Linked DNA regions of Homo sapiens: all the other regions are linked to region 1. Evidence: fine-mapped expression QTL. A gene starts in region 1. Each other region holds a variant in brackets. All regions are shown on one strand. Distances are from middle to middle.

Region 1 (5,105 bases):
CTGCCACTGACTCAGCAACTTTCTTTTTTACTTTACAACCTGTACTTAAGGTGCAAGCATATGACTGAAACCTAGCTTTCAATTTTTCTTTTTTTTTTTTTTAATCAGGCAGCCTCCAGAACCAGAGTAGGCTCTAAGAGATTCCCCTAGCTTTCAAACTGAGCAGCAAAGCCAATGCAAAACCAGTATTTGTTTTGGCAGGAAGCTCCAGTGAAAATATGAGATGTTTTGGTCTTAACTGGCAGATACACAAAGAGCAAAGAAAGGTGCCTTATTGAGTTATTATTTATAATGTAAAATCCCTTGTGTATAGCTACAAATCCACTTTTATTGCAGATACTTAATATGTTTCTTTATAGAAAGTAGCTCAACCAAATAATCTCCCAAATTTGGCACCAGGAATTGTTACAGCCTACACACCACTACAGTTCCTTGTAATTTAAAACATTTGCGTTTTAAGAATAGTCTCCACACTCCAACTATGCTGCCAATTTCTTCAGCTAAAAGCTTAAGTTTATACTACAAAATACTGTATTTACTCTCGACAATAGAATGCACTCATTTACAAAGCATACAGGACTAAATTACTCCAATATGCAACTTCAAAATTTCTCCAATATACAACGACAACATTTCTAACATCATAGCTTTTCTATTACCCAAATCAGTAAGTCTAAATAGTAGTACTGTACACTGCACGAGGTACTATTGGCCAAAGTCAAGTCGCATATGATCAGTTCACTACAACAGGTTATACAAAAGATCAGACCCCTAATCTCAATAAACTATTTTGCAAAATGGTCAACGGAGATACCAATGCGGAGGAAAGTGTGGATTGAGTGGCAGAAAACCCTTTGCCACTACTGAAAAAAAAAACAAGTCAAAGCAAGCCTATATGACAGGCAGATCATGTTCATGAATACAAATCTAACTTCATTGCCGACTTCCCAGTCTCACAGCAAGACGGCAGTTTACCAACTCTTTAACAGTAATACAAAGAACAGGACAGAAAATATAGTTTCTTTTTTGCATGCTATAGTGATCAAGAATAAAGGATACCTTTAATGTTCAAAGATGAAAACTTCCTTTTGCAACTAATATTGCTCTTATCGCGTGTACACAGAAAAATCATACAACGCTCTGCATTTCTGATAGAGTAATACACACTATCACATCAAATCAAGTATTTATCCAGAACTTAGCGCCTTAGCACTAACGTTCTCCCCTCTCATTATACACAGACCGGAAGGGAAAACCTATTCCTACGTAAATTAGGGCCTAGGAAGAACGCCTCAACACGGGTTTGCACACAATTAAGCAGGCTCAGTGGGTCAATTTCTCAGGCTACAACGCTTGACAGTATCTCGGAGGCACAAAGAGACAGCTGAGGGTTCACTACTGGAAATGACACTTTCCCTCAAATTTGCACAAGTACCCGCGGTAACTACCCTAAATTTTCCCGTGTGACAAACATACATAAGGGGAGAAGGAGGCGGTACTATTTAAAAACTGGGTAATTCCTTATTAGTGCAGATAAAAGACGGTCTTCGAGAGGGAAAAGGTCTATCAAGCAGAAAAGGGGAGGAAAAAAAAAAAGACGTGACAGCATTCTTAAAACAGAAAAAGTTACAGCTCTTTACAGGAGTCAGCCTTAGGACTTCATTCCTTGGTTTTGTGTTTAGTCACTCCAGAGTTAAAAGGATACTGCCCTCCTAGAAAGTCATCCCCGACAAAGAAGCCCTGAGGATCGGCCACCGTAAGACAGAGAAGGAAATGTCTTCAATTCACCAGAGACACCTGCCCAGGTCCCCCTCCTCCCCGTTGTCCCCGACACTTCTCAGTCCCCCGACTCCTCTCGAGACTGCCCGCCACCCCTGGCTCTAGCTCTCCGCTCTCTCAGCCTCGACCCCCTCTGGGAAGCCCCGATCCTGCTCCCTCCGCACCCCGGCCCCCACCAAAGCGGCCGTCGCCCCGGCGGTCCCCCGGGCCCAGACCCCTCGCGCTTGTACGCAAACGATTCTCATGGGCCCGGCGGGCGACGCGGGGAGGCTCTTCAGGGGCAGCCTTTCCCCGACTGCATCCCGCAGGATCCGGGGACTCCCCGCCCCCGGAAACCGCGGAGAAACTAGGCCACGAACGCCAGCCGCGGCCACTCTCCGCCTCCTCGGCGACCCCCCGCGGGCCAGCCACTCGGAACTCAGCCCTCCGGGCTCTACCTGTCCCGCGCCCTCCCAGCCTTGCAGCGCAGGCCCCGCGAGGGCACGGCGCAGGCTTCCTCCGCCAAAGGCCCCGCGCCGCAGCCTCACCTGCTGCCTGCTCCTCTGTCAGCGCAGCCCCGACACGGCTTCTTCCTGGGGCAAGAAAGCACCGGATTCGCGGACTGGGCGCGCTCGGCAGGGCAGGGCGGGGGACTAGCTCCAGCGGCCGCCGCCGCCTCAGTCCGGTCTGCGCCTGCGCCGCCTCGCGGGCAGGGTCTCCGAGGGGCGCCGCCTACAGCCAGGGGCGATGGCCGGAGCGCTGGCCCGCGCGGGTGCCTCCGCGCTGTGAGCCGTCGGACAGTGCGGGCGGCGCGTCGCCTAGGAGCTGCCCGCGGCGCAGCCGTCCCAAGACCTGACCGCCATGTTTCTGTTCCCTTTTTCTCCCCCGCCTTCCGCCCCTTTCCACAAAACAGCACTTTCTTTTCCCCCTCCCTCTCCCTTTCCTCCTGCGGGGGCGGGTGGAAAAGGGCGGGGGGTGGGAGGGAGAAGACGCAGGGAGGAGGGGGGCGGTGCGGTGCTCAGGCCCCTCCCCCGGGGAGGGCCGAGGCCCTGCAGCCACCGCTCCCCTCCCCCGCCCGACCCCTGTGCGACCCCCGCGGGGCGCGGGGTCTGAGCCTTGCGGGCCTCCGATCCCCTCCTCAGCGTTCGCGCGGCCGAGCCTGCAGAAACAGAGCTGGGGAGAAAGCGCTCTGGAGGCCGCTGTGCACCCCTTCCTGCAGGGCTCAGACTGGCGGTGTGATGTGGGTTTATTGCCTTGGCCTGAGGCAGGTGGCGGCTGCTTCTCTCGGAGTTTTCAAAGACAGGGAAAGTGATGCCGAGTGGCTGAAGGTCACTGAGGACAGTGCCGGGAGATACGTGAAGATTCCTTCCCAGGGAAGGAATCTGGAATTCCCACGCATGAGTAGAGGGCTCTAGAGAGACCCGCGCGCTGGCCCTTCCCGAAACCCCTTGGCTCCAGTGCACCATGTGAGTCCCTGGCCGCGCTCGGTGTCTCTCCTTCGGCCCAGATTTGGGGATGGGAATTCCTAATGGAGAAATCGCTCATTTGCATAGTCAGTACCCTCACGCCTCCTAAGTGTAGCCTCATTATCGACACAGACGCCTGCAGAGTCGTTTCTCTATAATGCAAATTTTGCAGGATATTTTTGAACAACGTTTTTGAGTTATCATAGTAAATGAAAAAGCAATTACTAGTTATTTAGGAAGAAGGAAATGGTTTGAAGTAGAGATAACTTTTTTACCTCTGGGGGGAAAAAAAGGCGAATGACTTCAGATTCCATGGCAGGTCAAAATCAGAACTGGTAAGATTTCTGCATATCTGGTGAGTATCCACATAAATAATCATTTTCCTGAAAATTACACTCTCCTTATTTAATCTGTATTTTTGCATAAAAATGTGAGATTATACCTGGGTCATAAATGCACTGCTGTCCATTTATTTCTGAAGTTTATTGCATAGCCATGGATAATTTGAGTTTTATATTCAATAGCAGAAACTATTTTTCTAACCACGTAAGCAGTCAGAATTGATTTCAGAAGAAATGCGCAGCAATAAAAGTTAAGGCTTATTTAATAACAGTTTGGGGCCAATTTGGTCCCCCTGGAAACTATCTTTGACATTGACAATCCGAAGAGCAAAAGTTTAAGAAAGGATCTAATACTTCAAAATTTAGCTTGTGGGCCGGACGCGGTGGTTCACGTCTGTAATCCCAGCACTTTGGGAGGCTGAGGCGGGCGGATCACCTGAGGTCGAGAGTTCCAGACCAGCCTGACCAACATGGAGAAACACTGTCTCTACTAAAAATACAAAATTAGCCGGGCGTGGTGGTGCATGCCTGTAATCCCAGCTACTCGGGAGGCTAAGGCAGGAGAATGGCTTGAACCTGGGAGGCGGAGGTTGCAGAGAGCCGAGATTGCGCCATTGCACTCCAGCCTGGGCAACAAGAGCAAAACTCTGCCTCAGAAAAAAAAAAAAAAAGAAAAAAAAGAAAAGAAACAGTGAAACAAAATTTAGCTTGTGGGCTTCTTTTCCTTCTTTCCCAAAGTCTAAATTAATTAGCAGTTTTAAAGCAATATAAACGAGATTTCTTTCTTTATTTACATATATATTTTTTAATTTTTCCTCATCCCAACTAGAAAAGGAAAGACAAGATTTCTTCGCCCCCTCCTTTTTTTTGGACACAGGATCCCCCCCTCTGTCACCCAGGCTGGAGTGCAGTGGCACAAACAGGGTTCACTGCAGCCTTAACTTCCTGCCACCTCAGCCTCCCGAATAGCTGAGATGGTAGGCCTGTGCCAACCACCCACCCACACCCCACTAATTTTTTGGGGGGGTTAGGGGAAGATATAAAGTCTCACTATATTGCCCAGGCTAGTCTTGAACACCTGAACTCAAGCAATCCTATTACCTCAGCCTCCCAAAACTCTGGGATTACAGATATGAGGCACCGTGCCCAACCAAGACAAGATTTCTTAATGGGTACATTCATTTAATTAGCTCTCAGGGATTCAGAGTTTTTTTTTTTCTCTCTCTCTCTCTTTTTTTATGGCACCCACAGAAATGAAAAATGGATGAGGCCAGTATCTCTCTTCCACTTGACTTGATTTTTCTCACTTTGCAATGGAAGGCTTAGGATTTTCTTTAATTTTTCTCACTATCTTAATCGTCCTATAGATTTACCATAGATTTTTCACTGCCATTTTCCACCAAAAATTTCATAGAATGAACTTGAATGTTTTGGGACTAATTTTTCATGTGAGTTAACTGTTCTCAGATCTGGAAGTTCTTGATTCAGCAACCTTCCCAACTGCATGCTTAGGGGCCCAGAACTGAAATAAGTTCATTTG
Region 2 (5,105 bases), 28 kb before region 1:
AAATAGGATCACATCAAGTTAAAATGCTTCTGCACAGCAAAGGAAACAATCAACAAAGTGAAGAGACAACCTACAGATGGGAGAAAATATTTGCAAACTATCCATTTGATAAGGTATTAATAACCAGAACATAGGCCGAGCATGGTTGCTTACACCTGTAATTACAGCACTTTGGGAGACCAAGGCGGGTGGATCACCTAGGTGAGGAGTTCAAGACCAGCCTGGCCAACATAATGAAACCCCGTCTCTACTAAAAATACAAAAATTAGCCGGGTGTGATGGCACACACCTGTAGATCCAGCTACTCGGGAGGCTGAGGTGGGAGAACTGCTTGAACCCAGGAGGTGGAGGTTGCAGTAAGCCGAGATCATGCCACCCCATTCCAGCCTGGGTGACACAGCAAGATTCCATCTCAAAAATAACATAACATAACATAACATAACATAACATAACATAACCAGAACATATAAGGACATCAAACAACTCTACAGGAAAAAAATCTAATAATCCAGTTTTAAAAACAGGCAAAATATCTGAATAGGTTTTTCTCAAAAGAAGACATATGAATGTCAAACAGGTATACGAAAAGGTGCTCTACATCACTGGTCATCAGAGAAATGCATCAAAATTTCTTTGATCAAAACTAAAATGAGATATCATCTCACACCAGTTAAAATGGCTTAGGTCCAAAAGACAGGCAATAACAAATGCTGGCAAGGATATGAAGAAAAGGGAACCCTCATACACTGTTAGTGGGAACACAAACTAGTATGGTAACTATGGAGAATAGTATAGAGGTTCCTCAAAAAATTAGAAACAGAACTATCATACAATCCAGCAATCCCCTATGATAGATATATACCAAAAAGAAAGGAAATCAGTACATCAAAGAAATACTGACACTCCCATGTTTATTGCAGCACTATTCACAATAGCCAAGATTTGGAAGGAACCTAAGTTGCTTCAACTTAGCAACCCTAAGTTATTCAACAACAGACAAATGGATAAAGAAAATGTGGCATTCGAGCCAGGCGTGGTGGCTGACGCCTGTAATCCCAGCATTGTGGGAGGCCGAGGCGGGCGGATCACCTGAGGTCAGGAGTTTGAGACCAGCCTGACCAACATGGAGAAACTCCGTCTCTACTAAAAATACAAAATTAGCCAGGAGTGGTGGGACATGCCTGTAATCCCAGCTACTCGGGAGGCTAAGGCAGGAGAAATCGCTTGAACCTGGGAGGCGGAGGCTGCAGTGAGCCAAGATCGCGCCACTGCACTCCAGCCTGGGCAACAAGAGCAAAACTCCATCTCAAAAAAAAAAAAAAAAGAAAAAAGAAAAGAAAATATGGTATATATACCCAACGGAGTACTATTCAGCCATAAAAAAGAGCAAGATTGTGTCATTTAGAACAACATAGATAGAACTGGAGGTCATTATATTAAGTAAAGTAAGCCAGGCACAGAAACACAAACTTCACGTTTTCACTTCACTTACTCATTTGTGGGAGCTACAACTTAAAACAATTAAACTAATGGAAACAGAAAATAGAATAATAGCTATCAGACGCTGCAAAGGGCAGTGGGGAGGTGGCGGGGGCGGAATGGAGACGGTTAATGCATACAAAAATAGGGTTAGAATGAATAAGATCTAGTATTTGATAGCACAACAGGATGACTACAGTCAACAATAATTTATTGTATATTTTAAAATAACTAAAAGTACCATTGGAATGTTCGAACAAAGAAATGATAAACACTTGAAGTGATGGATACTCCATTTACCCTGATGTGAACACACACTGTATGCCTGTATCAAAATATCTCATGTATCCCATAAATATATACACCTACTATGTACCCATAAAAACTTAAAATTTAGGCCAGGCAGGGTGGCTCACACCTGTAATCCCAGCACTTTGGGAGGCCGAGGCAGGCAAATCACCTGAGGTCAGGAGTTCAAGACCAGCCTGGCCAACATGGTGAAACCCCGTCTCTAATAAAAATACAAAAATTAGCTGGGCCTGGTGGCGTGCACCTGTAGTCCCAGCTACTCTGGAGGCTGAGGCAGGAGAATCTCCTGAACCCAGAAGGCAGAGGCTGCAGTGAGCCGAGATCACGCCACTGCACTCCAACCTGGAAACAGAGCAAGAATCTGTCTTTAAAAAAAAAAACTTAAAATTTAAAGAAAATAGAATGGATATTAGAATTTATCAAGCACTTTTTCTGCATCTACTGAGATCATTATGGCTTTTCTTTTATTTGTTAATATGGTAAATTACATTGATTTTCAAGTTATAGATCAATCCTGAATTTCTGGCATAAACCCCACTTGGGTCATGATCTGTCATCCTTTTTATATGTTCTTGAATTCTATTTGCTACAATTTTGTGTGAAATTTTATATATGTTAACGAGGAATACTGGCATATAGTTTTCCTGTAATATCTTTGGTTCTGGTATCAAGATAATGCTAACATGACAGAACAAGTTGGGAAAAATTTCCTCCTCTTCAATTTTCTGGAAAAGGTTGTAGAGAAATGGTGTTATTTCTTCCTTAAACGTCTGATAGAATTTGCCTGTGAAATTACATGAGTCTGGATCTTTATGCGGGTAGATTTTTAAACTATGATTTCAATTCCTTTAACACA[T/C]ACGAGGCTATTTGGCTTGCCTATTTCTTCTTGATTGATAGATAGATAGATTGATTGATTGATTTTTTGAGACAGGGTCTTACTCTGTTGCCCAGGCTGGAGTGCAGTGACACAATGACAGCTCACTGCAGTCTCAACCTCCCAGGCTCAAGTGTTCCTCCCACCTCAGCATCTCAAGTAGCTGGTACCGTGGACATGAACCACCACATCCAGTTAATTTATTTTTCTGGAGATGAGGTCTCACCATGTTTCCCAGGCTGGTCTAAAACTCCTGGGCTCAAGCGATTCTCCCCCTCCCAAAGTGCTGGGATTACAGGAATGAGCCACCTTGCCCAGCCCCTATTTCTTCCTGAATAAACTTTTGTAGTTTGTGTCTTTCAAGGAATTTGTCATTCCATCTAAGTTGTCAAATTTATTGGCATAAAGTTGTTCATAATATTCTATTACTATCCATTTAGTGTCTTTAGAATATGTAGTGATGTCACCTCTCTAATTCTGATATCAGTAATTTGTATCTTCTCTTTTATGTCTGATCAGCCTGGTTAGAAGTTTAACCATTTTAAAAATCACATTTGGTTTCATTGATTTTTCTCTTGCTTTTCTGTTTCATATTTCTTTGAATTTTACTTTGATCTTTATTATTTTCTTTTCTCTGCTTATGTAGAGTTTAATTTGCTCTTCTTTTTCAAGTTTTTTAAGGTGGAAGCTGAAGTCAATGATTTGAGATCTTTTCTAATTTAGTTATTTAGTGCTACAAATCATTTCCTAAGCAATGTTTTAGTGGTACCCCACAAATCTAGATATGTTGTGTTTTCTTTTTTTTTTTTTTTGAGACAGAGTGTCACTCTGTCACCTAGGCTGGAGTGTAGTGATGTGATCTTGGATCACTGCAACCTCCGCCTCCTGGGTTTAAGCGATTCTCACACCTCAGCCTCCTGAGTAGCTGGGATTACAGGTGCAAGCCACCGCACCCGGCCTTCTTTTTATTCTGTTCAGAATATTTTTTTATAGCCGTTTTCTTTTTTAAACTTTAATTCTTTTTTCCTTTTTTTCCTTTTCTTCACTCTGTTTTCTGAAACCTCACCTGGATCAAAATATATTTCCTTTTTTTTTTTTGAGACGGAGTCTCACTCTGTCGCCCAGGCTGGAGTACAGTGGCGTGATCTCGGCTCACTGCAACCTCCGCCTCCCAGGTTCACACCATTCTCCTGCCTCAGCCTCCTGAGTAGCTGGGACTGCAGGCGCCTGCCACCACGCCCGGCTAATTTTTTGTATTTTTAGTAGCAACAGGGTTTCACCATGTTAGCCAGGATGGTCTCGATCTCCAGACCTCGTGATCCACCTGCCTCGGCCTCCCAAAGTGCTGGGATTTCAGGCGTGAGCCACTGCACCCGGCCTTGTTTTATTTCCTTTTTTAAAAAATATTTTCTTTGCCCAATAGATAATTTTAAAGTATTTTTTCTCGGATGAGGTTTCTTACTAAAAAACTACAAATTAAAATAAAAAATAACATAAAAAAGACACAGATTTAATTTTAAAGAGTAAAAAAATAAAATTTAAAGAAAAGCAAGTGCCAGGCGTGGTGGCTCTCGCCTGTAATCCCAGCACTTTGGAAGGCTGAGGCGGGCAGATCACCTGAGGTTGGGAGCTCGTGACCAGCCTAACCAACACAGAGAAACCTCTCTCTTCTAAAAGTACAAAATTAGCCGGGTGTGGTGGCGCATGCCTGTAATCCCAGCTACTCGGGAGGCTGCGACAGGAGAATCGCTTGAACTCAGGAGGTGGAGATGGCAGTGAGCAGTGAGCAGAGATTGCGCCCTTGCACTCCAGCCTGGGCAACAAGAGCGAAACTCCATCTCAAAAAAAAAAAAAAAAACAAAAAAAAAAACAGAAAAGAAAAAAAAGAAAAATTTTTTTAAAAATAAAGTATGTTTTTCAGTTTCCAAATTCAGTACTTGGGAATTTTCCAAGAATCTTTCTGTTACTGATTTCTAACTTAAATGCCTTATGGTCAGAGAATGTACTTTGTATAACCCAAATTCTTTCATAGTTATCAAGACTTGTTTTATGGCTAAGAATCTGGTCTTTTTTTTTTTTTCATTTATTTTTTTGCAGAGACAGGGTCTTGCTATGTTGCCCAGCCTGGTCTTGAACTCCTGGCCTCAAGCAATCCTCCCACCCTGGCCTCCCAAAGTGCTGGGATTACAGGAGTTAAGACACCATGCTCAGCCTGAATGTGGTCTGTCTTGATGAATATTCCATGTGCACTTTAGCAGAATGTCTCTCTGTTGTTGCACAGAGGGCTCTATAAATCAAGTCAAGTAAATAGTGTTGTAACAAGTCTACTACATCCTTGATGGTTTTCTGTCCACTTGTGCTATCAACTAGTACGAGAATGGCATTAAAATCTCTGACTAAAATTATGGATTTGTCTTTTTCTCCTTTCAGTCTATCAGTTTTT
Region 3 (5,105 bases), 26 kb after region 1:
TCAGAAACTATGCCGGGCACAGTGGCTCACACTTGTAATCCCAGCTCTTTGCAGGCTGAGGCAAGAGTGTGGCTTGAGCTCAGGAGTTTGAGGCCACAGTGAGCTATGATCATGCCACTGCACTCCAGCTTAGGTGACAGAGCAAGACCCTTTCTGTAAAAATAAAAAGTATTTGAGAAACTGGAACAGATAAGACAGACCAATATTACGCTCAAGTTTTCCTCATATTATGGTAAAGTTGAAATTATTGAACTAGGCTGGGCATAGTGGCTAACACCTGTAACCCTAAGAACTTTGCAAGACTAAGGCAGGAGGATTGCTTGAGCCCAGGAGTTCAAGGCCAGCCTGGGCAGCATAGTGATAATCTGTCCCTAAAAAAAAATAATAATAACCATACCTGGCCAACATCGTGAAACCATGTCTCTACTAAAATACAAAAATTAGCTGGGTTTTTTGGTGCATGCCTGTAATCCCAACTACTTGGGAGGTTAAGGCAGAAGAATCACTTGAACCCGGGAGGCAGAGGTTGGAGTGAGCTGAGATTGCCCCACTGCACTCCAGCCTGGGTGACAGAGTGAAACTTCTTTTCTGAAACTGTCTCAAAAAAATAAAAATTAAAAGGCCAGGCGCGGTGGCCTACGCCTGTAATCCCAGCATTTTGGGAGGCCAAGGCGGGCAGATCACAAGGTCAGGAGATCGAGACCATCCTGGCTAATATGGTGAAACCACATCTCTACTAAAAATATAAAAAATTAGCCAGGTGTGGTGGCAGGCGCCTGTAGTCCCAGCTACTCGGGAGGCTGAGGCAGGAGAATGGCGTGAACCCAGGAGGCGGAGGTTGCAGTGAGCCGAGATCGAGCCACTGCACTCCAGCCTGGGCGACAGAGCGAGACTCCATCTCAAAATAAATAAAATTAAATTAAAATTAAAAAATAAATATTAAAATTCAATGTAAAACAATTAAGTTATGATGATAAACATCATACGATATCAACTCACACAAGATTCATGGTCCTTTTCAATGTCAGGTAAATTCATCCTTGATTTCATGAAAATCCAGGGATTAAAGCAGAGTAGTTTCATCTAAGTGCAGCTAATGTCTATTCCATTTTCAGGTATGTCCGTGGAGAACATACCTGAAAATGATATGTTCATGGAGAATCAACTTGCCTTTCATTCACTTCAACTTGTCTTTCATTCAAATATTCAGATATTTCATTTCAGATATTTCCTGAGCCATATGTTAGGTGCATGCCAAATTCATGCTGGGGATATTGTGTTGAACAAACCAGGCATGGTTCCTGCCCTCACGGAGTTTACAGCCTAGTGTGGTCCTAGCATACCGCCATGCCAATAATGTGCAGTTGTTTTTCTTTTTTTCCAGAAGGATCTCACTCTGTTGCCTACGCTAGAGTGCAGTGGTGCAATCATAGCTCACTGCAGCCTCCAACTGCTCGCTCAAGCAATCCTCTTACCTCAGCCTCCCAAGTAGCTGGGACTACAGGCATGTGCCACCATAATCAGCTGATTTTTTAAAAATTTTTTTGTAGAAACAGGACCTCACTTTGTTTTCTGGGATGGTCTTTTATTATTATTATTATTATTATTGTTTTTTTTTTTTTTTTTGAGATGGAGTCTTGCTCTGTTGCCAGGCTGGAGTGCAATGGCGTGATCTCGGCTCACTGCAGTCTCCACCTCCTGGGTTCAAGCGATTCCCCTGCCTCAGCCTCCCAAGTAGCTGGGATTAAAGGTGCATGCCACCATGCCCGGCTAATTTTTTTTTTGTATTTTAGTAGAGACGGGGTTTCACCATGTTGGCCAGGATGGCCTCGATCTCCTGACCTCATGATCCACCTGCCTCGGCCTCCCAAAGTGCTGGGATTATGGGCGTGAGCCACCGCGCCCAGCCTTTGGGCTGGTCTTGAACTCAGGGCCTGAAGTGATCCTCTTACCTCCCCTCCCAAAGTGTTGGGATTACAGGTGTGAGTAACCATGCCTGGACCTTTTTTTTTTTTTTTTTTTTTTTTTTTTAAGATACAGGTAGGGCCAGGGCTGGGCCCAGTGGCTCACTTCTATAATCCCAGCTATTTGGGAAGCCCAGGAGGGTGGATGGCTTGGGCTCAGGAATTCGAGACCAGCCCAGGCAACATGGCAAAACTCCATCTCTACTAAAACTACAAAAATTAGCCAGGC[A/G]TGGTGGCCTGTACCTGTAGTCCCAGCCATTCAGGAAGCTAAGGTAGTAGGATCACTTGAGCCTAGGAGGCGGAGGTTGCAGTGAGCCAAGATCATGCCACTGCACTCCAGCCTGGGTGCAGAGCCAGACTCTGTCTCACGAAAAAATAAAAATAAAAAAAATAAGGAGGCTGGGCACGGTGGCTCACTCCTGTAATCTCAGCACTTTGGGAGGCCAAGGTGGGCCGATCACTTGAGTCCGGGAGTTCAAGACCAGCCTTGAAGACCAGCCTGGGCAACATGGTAAAACCCTGTATCTACTAAAAAATAAATAATATTAATAAATAAAATAAAATAAAGATATAATTAACAGCTAGGCGCAGTGGCTCAGGCCTGTAATTCCAGCACTGTGGGAGGCCAAGGCAGGAAAATCTCTTGAAGCCAGGACTTGGAGACCAGCCTGAGCAACATGGTGAGACTCCATCTCTACCAAAAATATACAGAAATTAGGCGGGCATGGTGGCATGGCACTTGTGGTGCCAGCTACTCTGGAGACTGAAGTGAAGGATCGCTTGAGCCCTGGAGGTGGAGATTGCAGTAAGTGGAGATTGCACCACTGCACTGCACTGCACCACTGCACTGTTGTCTGAGCAACAGAGGGAGACCCTCTTTAAAAAAAAATGCTGGAACTCATAGATACAATGGATTGAGTGCTCAGGGTTTTCCCTAATCACTAGGTAAAACCAGCATGGTTGATGTCTTTGTGAAGGTACTTTTCCAGCTACACCCAAGCTTTAATGCACAGGCAATCACCAGGAATCTTGGTAAAATGCAGACTGTGATCAGTAGGTGTGTGTTGGATCTGAGATTTTGCGTTTCTTTTCTTTCTTTCTCTCTTTCTTTCTTTCTTTCTCTTTCTTTCTTTCTTTTTTTGATGGAGTCTCGCTCTTGCACCCAGGCTGGAGTGCAGTGGCGCAATCTCGGCTCACTGCAAGCTCTGCCTCCCGGGTTCACACCATTCTCCTGCCTCAGCCTCCTGCGTAGCTGGGACTGCAGGCGCCTGCCACCGTGCCTGGCTAATTTTTTGTATTTTTAGTAGAGACGGGGTTTCACCATGTTAGCCAGGATGGTCTCGATCTCCTGACCTCGTGATCCGCCCACCTTGGCCTCTCAAAGTGCTGGGGTTACAGGCGTGAGCCACCACGCCTGGCCTCTTTCTTTTTTTGAGAAGTAGTCTCACTCTGTCACCCAGGCTGGAGTGCAGTGGCACCATCTTGGCTCACTGCAACCTCCGTCTCCTGGGTTCAAGCAATTATCCTGCCTCAGCCTCCTGAGTAGCTGGGATTACAGGTGTGCGCCACCATGCCCGGCTAATGTTTTTTGTATTTTGAGTAGAGATGGGGTTTCGTGATGTTGGCAAGGCTGGTCTTGAACTCTTGACCTCAGGTGATCCACCCACCTTGGCCTTCCAAAGTGCTGGAATTACAGACATTAGCCACCACGCCTGGCCAGATTTTGCATTTCTAATAAACTCACAGATGCTGCCTGTGCTGATGGTCCACTGATCCCATTTTGAGTGCAAGGAGTTAGACTATGTCATCAGGAGAATATCAGCTGAGGCTCCTTCAGGTGTTTCTGTGTGAGGGCTGTCCTGTCCTCCATATAGTATATAGCTTCTCCCCACCTTGGCCAGCACAATCTCTGTTCCACCCAGCCCCCAGCTCTTTAACAGGTTTTACACACACACACACACGCCCGCATGCGCACACACACATATGTATTTTGTTTGTTTTTGAGACAGGGTCTTGCTCTGTCGTCAGGCTGGAGTGCAGTGGTGTGATCACAGCTCACTGCAGTCTCAACCTCCCAGGATCAAACCATCCTCCCACCTCAGCCTCCCGAGGAGCTGGGACTAGAGGTGCATGCCACTATGCCTAGCTAATTTTTGTTTTGTTTTGTTTTTGAGAAGGAGCTTCACTCTTTTTGCCCAGGCTGGAGTACAATGGTGCAATCTCAGCTCAATGCAACCTCCACCTCCTGGGTTCAAGCGATTCTCTCTGCCTCAGCCTCCCAAGTAGCTGGGATTAAAGGCGCCTGCCACCACGCCCGGCTAATTTTTTGTATTTTTAGTAGAGATGGAGTTTCACCATGTTGGCCAGGCCAGTCTCGAACTCCTGACCTCACGTGATCCTACCCGCCTCGGCCTCCCAAAGTGCTGGGGTTACAGGCCTGAGCCACCGTGCCCAGCTGTGCCCAGCTAATTTTTAAATTGTTTGGACAGACAGATGCAGGGGGGCGGGTCTCCCTATGTTGCCTAGGCTGGTCTCTAGCTCCTGGCTTCAAGCCTCACTGTGGCTCCCAAAGTGCTGGGATTACAGGCAGGAGCCATTGTGCCCCGCCTTCAACGGGTTTCTTGTTCTGAGATCTGAGGGTGTTTGCCGGACCCACAGCTGCCTGACCCAGGGCCTGTTTCCTATCTCAGGAGGGGCCTTTGTGCTACTTCTCCTTGAGATGCTACTCCCTCCCATCCCCCAGGAAGTGATATATGGCCTCTCCTCCCTTTTGCAGGGATACTTGGCAACCAGACCCTTTGTGTATTTATGGCCCATTAACAAACTTTATCTAAGAGATAAGAAAGATCGTGAAAACCAGCTGCCCTTTGTTCAGATCATTTCACTTTGAAATAAGACTTACCCCTCTCTATTTTTAGTCTGCTGTTTATTTTGTAGGTTTGGATAAGGTGATTATAGCCCAAGGCTTGTTTTGATCTTTGTTCCTTAAGCTCTGGGGTGATTGGTAAACATTTTAGAAGCCAGTGGCTACTAGCTTTTATTTTAGCTTTTTCAGGATCATAGAATTGTAGACTTCGACCGTAGAAAAGGGCTTTCAAGGAGTTGTAGCTTAGCCCCCTTTATCTGACAAATAGGAAACAG
Region 4 (5,105 bases), 49 kb after region 1:
GCCTCAGCCTCCCAAGTAGCTGGGATTACAGGCACGCGCCATCACACCTGGCTAATTTTTGTATTTTTGGTAGAGATGGGGTTTCACCATATTGGCCAGGCTGGTCTCAACTCCTGATCTCAAGTGATCCACCCGCCTTGGCCTCCCATAATGCTAGGATTACAGGGGTGAGCCATCACATGTAGCACCAATCTCTAGATTTCAAGAGACCACATATTGTCACAGCTTCTTGGAGATTTTCTTCACTGGATTTAAGTCATTGTTCTCCAAAGTGTGTTCTGAGAGCTACCTACATTTGAATCATCTAGATTAAGGTATCATCATCTCTACTAAAGGACCTTGTAATCTGTGTTTTTTTTTTTTGAGATGAAGTCTCCCTCTATTGCCCAGGCTGGAGTGCAATGGTGCAATCTTGGCTTACTGGCAACCTCCGCCTCCAGGGTTCAAGCAATTATCTGCCTCAGCCTCCCGAATAGCTGGGATTACTGGCACCCGCCACCACACCCAGCTAATTTTTGTATTTTTAGTAGACATGGGGTTTCACCATCTTGGTCAGGCTGGCCTTGAACTCCTGACCTTGTGATCCACCCACCTCGGCCTCCCAAAGTGGTGGGATTACAGGCGTGAGCCACTGCGCCCGGCCCGGAATCTGTTTTTAACAAGCACTACAACTCCCCAGAATTCTTTTTTTTTTTTTTTTTTTGAGATGGAGTCCCTCTCTGTGGCCCAGGCTGGAGTGCAGTGGCGTGATCTCGGCTTACTGCAACCTCCAGCTCCTGGGTTCAAGCAATTTTCCTGCCTCAGCCTCCCGAGTAGCTGGGGTTACAGGCGCCCACCACCACGCTGGCTAATTTTTTGCGTGTATTTTTAGTAGAGACAGGGTTTCACCATCTTGGACAGGCTGGTCTTGAACTAACCTCATGATCCACCTGCCTCGGCCTCCCAAAGTGCTGGGATTACAGGTGTGAGCCACCGCACCGGGCCAAAATTTATTTTTTTGCACAAAATTAACTTAGCTAAATCAGAGTTCACAAGCCTTCACTGGTAATGTGACCCACAGGAGAGAGTCCTGGGGCAGAGGAGGAGTCTTGTTTATGCCTTTCCTGTTTCCATTCCTGTACTCCCTGTCCCTGCCAAAATGCCATTTCTGATAGTGTTGGTCACTGCAGAAGGAAACAGGAAAAAACAGGAAGGAACTGAGGAAACTTCAGTGTTCCCTCTTGATTACAGTAGTGTGGGAAACAGGCCTGGGTTTAGAAAGCAATGCAGCAGAATGCTTAAAAATCATTCACAAAGCTTGGTAAAACCACAGACTCCCCTTCTCCCCATTCTAATTAAGTGGGTATGCGGTGGGGCCTCAGAACCTATATTTGTAAAAATACCTACAGTGATTCTAATGCAGGTTGATCTGGGGGTACATCAGGATATTTCTTATTTAATGTACTGGAGCCCAGAGCTAGAAGTCCCCTTTGACAGCTGTCTTCAAACTGTCGGCACAAAGACCTAAAGTAATTTTACAATATAAAGACATCTGGGTTCTCTAACTGTCACAGGGCAACTCCCCAAACTGGGGATCAGCCCAGGAGGCCATAAGGGTTCTTGACTTTTGGCAGAAAAGAATTAAGGAGGCCATGGTGGCTAATGCCTGTAATCCCAACACTTTGGGAGGCTGAGGCAGGTGGATTGCCTCAGGTCAGGAGTTCGAGAACAGTCTGGCCAACATGGTGAAACCCCATCTCTACTAAAAATACAAAAAAATTAACTGGGTGTGGTGGCATGCACCTGTAATCCCAGCTACTCGGGAGGCTGAGGTAGGGGAATTGCTTGAACCAGGGAGGTGGAGGTTGCAGTGAGCGGAGATCATGCCACTGCACTCTAGCCTGGACAACAGAGCAAGACTCTGTCTCAAAAAAAAAAAAAAAAACAGGAGCAAGTGGACCGAATAAAGTGAAAGCCAGTTTATTAAAAAGTAAAGGAATGAAACAGTGGCTACCCCATAGACAGAGTAGAAGCACGGACTGCTGGACTAACTATAGTTATGGTTATTTCTTGATTACATGCTGAAAAGGGGGTGGATTATTCATGTTTTCTTGGAATGGGGTGGGGAGTTCCCCAGAACTGAGGGTCCTCCCCATCTCCTACTCTATAGGGTAACTTAGGGACGTTGCCATAACATTTGTAAACTTTCATGGTGCCAGTGGGAGTGTCTTTCAGGGCGCTGATAATGCATTAGAATTAGCATATAATGAGCAATGAGAATGACCAGAGGTCACGTTCTGTTTTTTTTTTTTTTTTTTTTTTTTTGAGACAGTCTTGTTCTGTCACCCAGGCTGGAGTGCAGTGGCGAGATCTCAGCTCACTTGCAACCTCTGCCTCTCAGGTTCAAGCGATTCTCCTGCCTCAGCCTTCTGAGTAGCTGGGAATACAGGTGCCCGCCACCAGGCCCAGCTAATTTTCGTATTATTAGTAGAGACGGGGTTTTACCATGTTGGTCAGGCTGGTCTCGAACTCCTGACCTCGTGATCCACCCACCTCGGCCTCCCAAAGTGCTAGGATTACAGGCGTGAACCACTGCGCACGTCCTCCAGAGGTCACTTTCTTTGCCATCTTGATTTTGATTTTGGGAGGGAGCTGGCTAACTGTTTTGTTTTTTTGTTTTGTTTTGTTTTTATGTTGCCAGGCTGTTCTTGAACTCCT[A/G]GCCTCAAGCGATCCTCACACCTTGGCTTCTCAAGTGCTGAGATTACAGGCATGAGCCACCACACCCAGCCCTTGGCTGGGTTCTTTACTGCACCCTGTTTTATAAGCAGGGTCTTTGTGACCTACGTCTTGTGAAACAAGTCCTGCCAAATTCCTATCTTATAACTAGCCAGCATTTAGTTTTAGTATATTCTGTGTTTGCCTTAAGATAGTATGTACATTTTCCCCTAGAGCAGCAAAAAAGAAAAGGATAGTGTATATTTTGTATTTCAAAGAAATACTGGGGCTGGGTGCTGTGGCTGACATCTGTAATCCCAGTACTTTGGGAGGCTGAGATGGGTGAATCACCTGAGGTCAGGAGTTTGAGACCAGCCTGGCCAATATGGCCAAACATTTTTTCTAGTCTCTGCTAAAAAAAAAAAAATTAGCCAGGCAAGGTGGCGCCTGCCTATAATCCCAGCTACTCAGGAAGCTGAGGCAGGAGAATTGCTGGAACCCAGGAGGCAGAGGATGCAGTGAGTCGAGATGGCGCCACTACACTCCAGCCTGAGCGACAGAGCGAGACTCCATCTCAAAAAAAAAAAAAAAAATACTGGCTAACATCTCTACAAATAAATGAACCATTTGATAGGAACATTACTTTCATATGATTCCATTAAAAATATAAACTTTGGCTGGGCATTGCGGTTCATGCCTGTAATCAATCCCAGCACTTTGGGAGGCCAAGGCAGGTGGATCACCTGAGGTGAGGAGTTCGAGAGCAGCCTAGCCAACATGGTGAAACCCTGTCTGTACTAAAAATATAAAAAATTAGCCAGGCATGGTGGCACACACCTGTAATCCCAGCTACTCAGGAAGCTGAAGCAGGAGAATTGCTTGAACACAGGAGGCAGAAGTTGCAGTGAGCCGAGACCCCACCACTGTACTTCAGCCTGGGTAAGAAGAGCAAAACTTTGTTTAAAAAAAAAAAAATTAGCTGGGTGTGGTGGCACACACCTGTAATCCTAACTATTTGGGAGGCTGAGGCATGAGAATCACTTGAACCTGGGAGGCAGAGATTGCAGTGAGCTGAGATTGTGCCATTGCATGCTAGCTTGGGCAACAGCAAGACTCTTGTTTAAAAAAAAAAAAAAAAATCATGGTGGCTTGTCAAGTTTTGGAAATTTCTCCTTAATGGTTTTTCCTAACATATTGCTTTTAGTATGTCATTCTGTCACTGCTTTCCTCAAAATCTTCAGTGGGACTTCACTGCCTACTTATTAATTTCCGTCGGCTAGTGTTTGAGGCCTTATGACTTTATCAGTCCACCTTGCCAGCCTCACTTTTTTGTTTTGTTTTGTTTGAGACAGAGTCACACTCTGTCACCCAGGCTGGAGTACTTTGGCACAATCTCGGCTCACTGCAACCTCCACCTCCCAGGTTCAAGCGATTCTCCTGCCTCAGCCTCCCAAGTAGCTGGGACTACAGGTGCCCACCACCATGCCTGGCTAATTTTTTTTTTTTTTTTTGTATTTTTTGTAGTGTCAGGGTTTCACCATGATGGCCAGACTGGTCTCGAACTCCTGACCTCAGGTGATCCGCCATCTCGGCCTCTCAAAGTACTGGGATTAAAGACATGAGCCGCAGTGCCCAGCCAAATTGATTCTTTTATTTTTTATTTTTATTTTTATTTATTTATTTGTTGAGGTGGAGTTTTGCTCTTGTTGCCAAGGCTGGAGTGCAATGGCATGATCTCAGTTCACTACAACCTCTGCCTCCCTGGTTCAAGCGATTCTCCTGCCTCAGCCTCCTGAGTAGCTGGGATTACAGGCGCCCGCCACAGCCGGGCTAATTTTTTGTATTTTTAGTAGAGACAGGGTTTCACCATGTTGGCCAGGCTGGTCTTGAACTCCTGACCTCAGGTGATCCACCCGCCTTGGCCTCCCAAAGTGCTGGGATTACAGGCATGAGCCACCATGCCTGGCCTATTTATTTATTTTTTGAGACAGAGTTTCACTTTTGTTGCCCAGGTTGGAGTGCAATGGTGCAATCTCAGCTCATTGCAACCTCTGCCTCCCATGTTTAAGTGATTCTCCTGCCTCAGCCTCCTGCTTTTAGAAAGCATTTTACAGGAGAACGGGCGCAGTGGCTAATGCCGGTAATCCCAGCACTTTGGGAAGTTGGAGGCAGGCAGATTGCTTGAGCTCAGGGGCTCAGGACTTTCCTGGGCAATATGGTGAGACCCCATCTCTACTAAAGATTGTTTTTAAATAGCTGAGTGTTGTGGCGAGGGCCTCTAGTCCTAACTACTCAGAGGCTGAGGCGAAAGGATGCTTGAGCCTGGGAGGTCGAGGCTGCAGTGAGCCGTGATCGCACCACTGCACTCCCGCCTGGGTGACAGAGTGAGACCCTGTCTCAAAACCAACTAA
Region 5 (5,105 bases), 61 kb before region 1:
GACCTCTCCCCTGAACCTCAGACTCCTATTTTCAAAATGACTACTCACTAATCTCCACCTGGATGTCATACAGGCATCTCAAACCAATATTTTCAAAAGTGAGCTCATCATCTAAACACTTCATCCAATATTCCTAATCTTACTCAGTCATGCTACACAATTCCCAAGGTAGAAACTTCGAAGTCATGTTCAATTCCACTTCCACTTACCACATATCAAAGCAACTACTGAAGCCCTAACTGGTCTCAAGTCAGAAGAGAAAGTATTTTAGTGAAAAATACACTGAAGAAACAGTCCTTCAGAGGTAATATCTCATCCTTCAAAAGTTCCCCATTACAGGTAAAATGCCACAGTCCGTGTAAGTGGCATGATGCTCTCAATTCCTCACAGTACCTGCTGTTGCTTTTCAACAATACAGAGCTACCAGGCATATAGACTAGTTCATAATTTTGTGCTTTTATGTATTTTGTTTAGCCTTGGTACTTCCTCTGATCTGCCCATTCCTTAAAACACTGCAAAGAAATTCTATCACTATACCCATCCCCTTCTCCCAGCAATCAATCCTTACCTCTGTGTTTTATAAATCTTGCCAACTGTTTAGTCATTATATATATCACAGGAACCCTTGCCTTTACACACACATTCCCAGATACAATTATTTCAAAGTGATCTCAAAGTTTTTAACCCATCCCCTTCTCCCAACAATCAATCCTTACTTCTGTATTTTATAAATCTTGCCAACTGTTTTTTCATTATAACCCTTGCCTTTATACACACAATATTCCCAGATATAATTATTTCAAAGTGATCTCAAAGTTTTTAACAAGCAATGACAAATACCTAAATTTTACACACCTCAATGCTTACATGTTGATATCCCCTAAACAATGAAAAAGCCAAGCAGATCACCTAGTACCCACATCTCAAATGAGACTTTATTGTTCTCTACTGCCAAAGCATATTAGGTAACTAATGTTTGAAGATCTTAAAATTTTCAGTTATATTTACTACTTTCAGCAGGAGAAATTGTAAATGATTATTAAGCTAACAAGTTAGTAGTGGGCAATCAAGTTAATATAATATTGACCTTCACTCAGTATTTTCTATGTTCCAGGCACTATGCTGGATACTTTACATATATTATCTTTATCACAGTAGTTATAAAGGTGTAGCCTGTACCTGTAGAATGAGGTCACAGATGTATTTTGTTTCATCTGCATGAGTCAGTTCAGATTATATATTTTTTCAATAAAATCGCCTATTAAATTTCCTTAGAAAGTTTTCAATTTTTGCTGGGCGCATTGGCTGACACCTGTAATCCCAGCATTTTGGGAGGCTGAGGCAGGTGGATCACCTGAGGTCAGGAGTTCGAGACCAGCCTGGCCAACATGGTGAAACCCCATCTCAACTAAAAATACAAAAATTAGCCGGGCGTGGTGGCAGGTGCCTGTAATCCCAGCTACTCGGGGAGCCAAGGCAGGAGAATCGCTTGAACCCGGGAGGCGGAGGTTGCAGTGAGCCCAGATTGTGCCATTGCACTCCAGCCTGGGGGATAAGAGTGAGGTTTCGTCTCAAAAAAAAAAAAAAAAGAAAAGAAAGTTTTCAATTTTGAAATTTCTACTGCTATCAGCTTTTTATACTGAATATTGTTTATTTTTGCCTTCTCTTCTTTATAAATCAGTTTATGTCATTATTACTGTTATATACAATATATGTTTTACATAAGACAATAAATGTCTTTTCTCTCTAGTTGTTTTGTCTCCGGTGTTCCATGATAGCACCATGATATAATAAGAGGCGGGATAGGCCAGGCATGGTGCCTCATACCTGTATAATCCAGGACTTTGGGAGGCTGAGGCAGGTGGATCACTTTAGGTCAGGAGTTTGAGACCAGCCTGACCAACAGGGTGAAATCCTGTCTCTACTAAAAAAAAAAAATACAAAATTAGCTGGGCGTGGTGACGCACACCTGTAATCCCACTGCTTAAGAGGCTGAGGCAGGAGAATCACTTGAACCTGGTAGGTGGAGGTTGCAGTGAGCCGAGATCGCACCACTGCACTCCAGCCTGGGCAACAAGAGTGACATTCCGTCTCAAAAAAAAAAGAGGTGGGATTATTTATTTATTTACTTATTTGTTTATTTTTCTCTGCTGCAGATTCAGAGTACATCTTTAACCTGAAGACTCAATTTTTTCATCAACCTTGGAAAACTCTCAACCATTAGCTCTTAGGATGTAGCCTTGTCCTTTTCTAGTCTCTCCTTCAGTAACTCATTAAATATCTATTAGACCTTCTAGTTCTATCTGCTACATTTTAAAACTCCTTTTATGTTTTACATTTGTATGTACCACATTTAAGGTAACCTATCTTCCACTTCATTAATTATCCCTTCATGTATGTCTTATCTCTGCTATTTTTTTTTTTTTTTTTTTAGAAAGAGTATCGCTCTGTAGCCTAGGCTGGAGTGCAATGGTGCAGTCTCAGCTCATTGCAACCTCTGTCTCCCGGGTTCAAGCAATTCTCATGCCTCACCCTCCCGAGTAGCCAGGATTACAGGCGTGTACCACCAAGCCTGGCTAATTTTTTGTATTTTCAGTAGAGACGGAGTTGTGCTATGTTGCCCAGGCTGGCCTTGAACTCCTGGCCTGAAGTGATCCACCTGTCTCAGCCTCCCAAAGTGCTGGAATTGCAGGCGTGAGCCACCGCACCTGGCCTTATCTCTGCTGTTTAACCCATTCACTGAATTTTTAATTTTAAGGACCATATTTTTCATTTCTAAACACTTGATTCTTTTCCCAATCTATTCATTTTTCAAAATATCCTGTTCCTTCCTTGATATTTTGAGCCCCTCCATTAGTTCTTAGGTCATCTCAATGATATTTTAATTTATAACATCCTTTATATTGTCATTCTGTCATTTCAATGTCTTGAGGGTCTAACCCTGCTTTTTAATTGTGTCTGTCGATTCTTTCTATGGTACCTATGTCCTTGATCTGTCATAATCATCTCATCTTGACACCTGGGTTTTGAAG[G/T]TGTCTATCCAGAGAGACTTTATCTTTGCTTCTGTAGAAGTTCCAGAGGTATCAATATCCTGATAGCAATTTTCATGTTGATTTCTCACCTTGGGGATGACAGTGTAAATTTAAACCAAAATGTATCATGTCCAAATAATCCTAACATTCAAATAAAACTTGTATTAACCTTTTTATGAAATAAAAACATGGACAAAATGTGTTTAATCAATGAGACAAAAACATACCTTTTTGGCTGAAGAACCTGTCAAGACAAAAGTTGAAAAAACTGGAAGTGGATATTTGGTTTCAGGATCCCAGCACTCAATAGTAGCTCCCATAGGAAGGCAGAAAAGAGGTACATCTGATTCTGAGAGTGGAAATGACTCATAGTCCTCTTCTGGATATCTAAAAATTAAACCTTTTGAAGAATGAGACAACAATAAATTTTTTAAATAGTTACTTTTCCATAAATTGCATATGATAGGTATTAATGGAATATTTTAATGCCGAATTTCATGGCAATACTTGTGTGGTATTTTAAAATTGATTTCCCCCTTGCTATAACAGAAACTAAAATAAGTTTACCCCTGATATTTTACCCATGAATTTACAGTTCATTGTAACATTTAAAATGTATTAATATACTAGTTGAGATTCCATTCAACCAATCTTGATCACCAATCTTAATGTATTTTCTTCTACACATGCCAACACCTTGTGGAAAATGGTAAGAAACATACAGAAAAATTTACCAACTATTTCAGTTAGTCTTCTGTGAAAAATTCAGGGAAGAGACAAGTGTTATGAAATAATGCTGAGGCAACAGAAATTATCACAGCCCCTAAACTCATCTTAAGAGGGAAGCAGTGTAAAAGGCATGCAACATGAAAAGTAAATGAGACAGAAACACTGTGACTAAGTACAGAGTATGTGAGACCCAGAAAGTAGGAGCAAGTGACACTTTGAGAACCACAATGAAGACCCACAGAATAAATTAGCTACATGGCATCTGTTCATTAGCCTCTAAGGTCATCAATATATAGACCATCTCTAAGTGAAAAACTTCAAAATCAGTAGTAGAATTTTGAGCCCAAATTCAGTATCTAAAACTCTCTATTCTAAAATAAGTGTCTCATATCAAATAACTGAATACTTTGGTACAGTTTCTTTCTATAAGTTTTTTAAGTGATATCTTTTCTCCACCAAAAACAACAACAACAACAAAAAAAGGACATCACACATAATCAACATATTACAGCAGTATTAACAGTATCACTTTTTTTTTTTTTTTTTGAGACAGGATCTTGCTTTGTCACCCAGGCTGGAGTGCAGTGGTGTGATCTCGGCTCACTGCAACCTCCGCCTCCTGGGTTCAAGCGATTCTCGTGCCTCAGCCTCCCAAGTAGCTGGGACTACAGATGCGTGCCACCACGCCTGGCTAATTTTTGTATTTTTAGTAGAGACGGGGTTTCACCATGTTGGCCAGGCTGGTCTCAAACTCCTGGCCTCAAGCGATCTGCCCGCCTCACTCTCCCAAAGTGCTGGAATTACAGGCGTGAGCCACCATGCCCAGCCTACAGTATCAGATTTTAAAATGATACTGAATTTTATACGTTAGTCGTTGCCATTATTTTTATATTATAAATTAAATGGTTTGGTTCATTAGTATGAATGTTTTTATGAAAATCACGATTTTTTGGATATGAATTTGCCTGACTTCCCTGAAGTAAAACTTTATTTCAAGAACTGTGCATAATCAAATAGTAATTAGCACTGCTTCTTTTCACAAAGAAGTATTCCAGTATCTTTTCTATTTACAACTGGAGCATACCTGTATTTTCAGTTTTTATCCCACCATACCAGTGGAATGAAGACGTGACACTTAAATCTTTACAGCCCTTGACACTTTAATGTGCAGTAAGAATGTGGCGATAGATTTCTCAAACACTTCATGGCAGAAAAGTTTCTCAGGCCCTCCTCTCCTCCATATAGCTGATTCTTTGCAACAAAGGAGAAAGGAAGCAAGTCCACCTTTCATGGCAAGTAACATGTGGTTTCAAATCAGACACAAAGAGATAAGAGAAGGAAATA

What was found. PIP is the estimated chance that this variant, and not a neighbour inherited with it, causes the effect.
Region 2: its variant is fine-mapped to the expression of DENND4C in whole blood (INTERVAL, PIP 0.93).
Region 3: its variant is fine-mapped to the expression of DENND4C in thyroid (GTEx, PIP above 0.99).
Region 4: its variant is fine-mapped to the expression of DENND4C in esophagus mucosa (GTEx, PIP 0.93).
Region 5: its variant is fine-mapped to the expression of DENND4C in nasal epithelium (TOPMed, PIP 0.92).

What each region holds. Positions count from the first base shown.
Region 1 is chr9:19,228,035-19,233,139 of GRCh38, reverse strand. It overlaps DENND4C (DENN domain containing 4C), which reads right to left and starts at 2,447. Exons shown (of 33, transcript NM_001330640.2): 1 at 2,307-2,447. RefSeq lists silencers at 1,900-2,039, 2,260-2,629, 2,710-3,009 and enhancers at 1,643-2,148, 2,149-2,655, 3,040-3,289.
Region 2 is chr9:19,255,725-19,260,829 of GRCh38, reverse strand. All of the region lies in intron 1 of DENND4C (DENN domain containing 4C), which reads right to left. Among named protein-coding and RNA genes, the nearest start is that of DENND4C, 28 kb to the right of the region's middle. The variant T/C (reference allele first, on the strand shown) is at 2,645.
Region 3 is chr9:19,202,118-19,207,222 of GRCh38, reverse strand. No RefSeq gene overlaps it. Among named protein-coding and RNA genes, the nearest start is that of DENND4C, 26 kb to the left of the region's middle. RefSeq lists an enhancer at 4,259-4,777. The variant A/G (reference allele first, on the strand shown) is at 2,194.
Region 4 is chr9:19,178,832-19,183,936 of GRCh38, reverse strand. No RefSeq gene overlaps it. Among named protein-coding and RNA genes, the nearest start is that of DENND4C, 49 kb to the left of the region's middle. The variant A/G (reference allele first, on the strand shown) is at 2,698.
Region 5 is chr9:19,289,031-19,294,135 of GRCh38, reverse strand. DENND4C (DENN domain containing 4C) reads right to left here. Exons shown (of 33, transcript NM_001330640.2): 5 at 3,260-3,432. Among named protein-coding and RNA genes, the nearest start is that of DENND4C, 61 kb to the right of the region's middle. The variant G/T (reference allele first, on the strand shown) is at 3,033.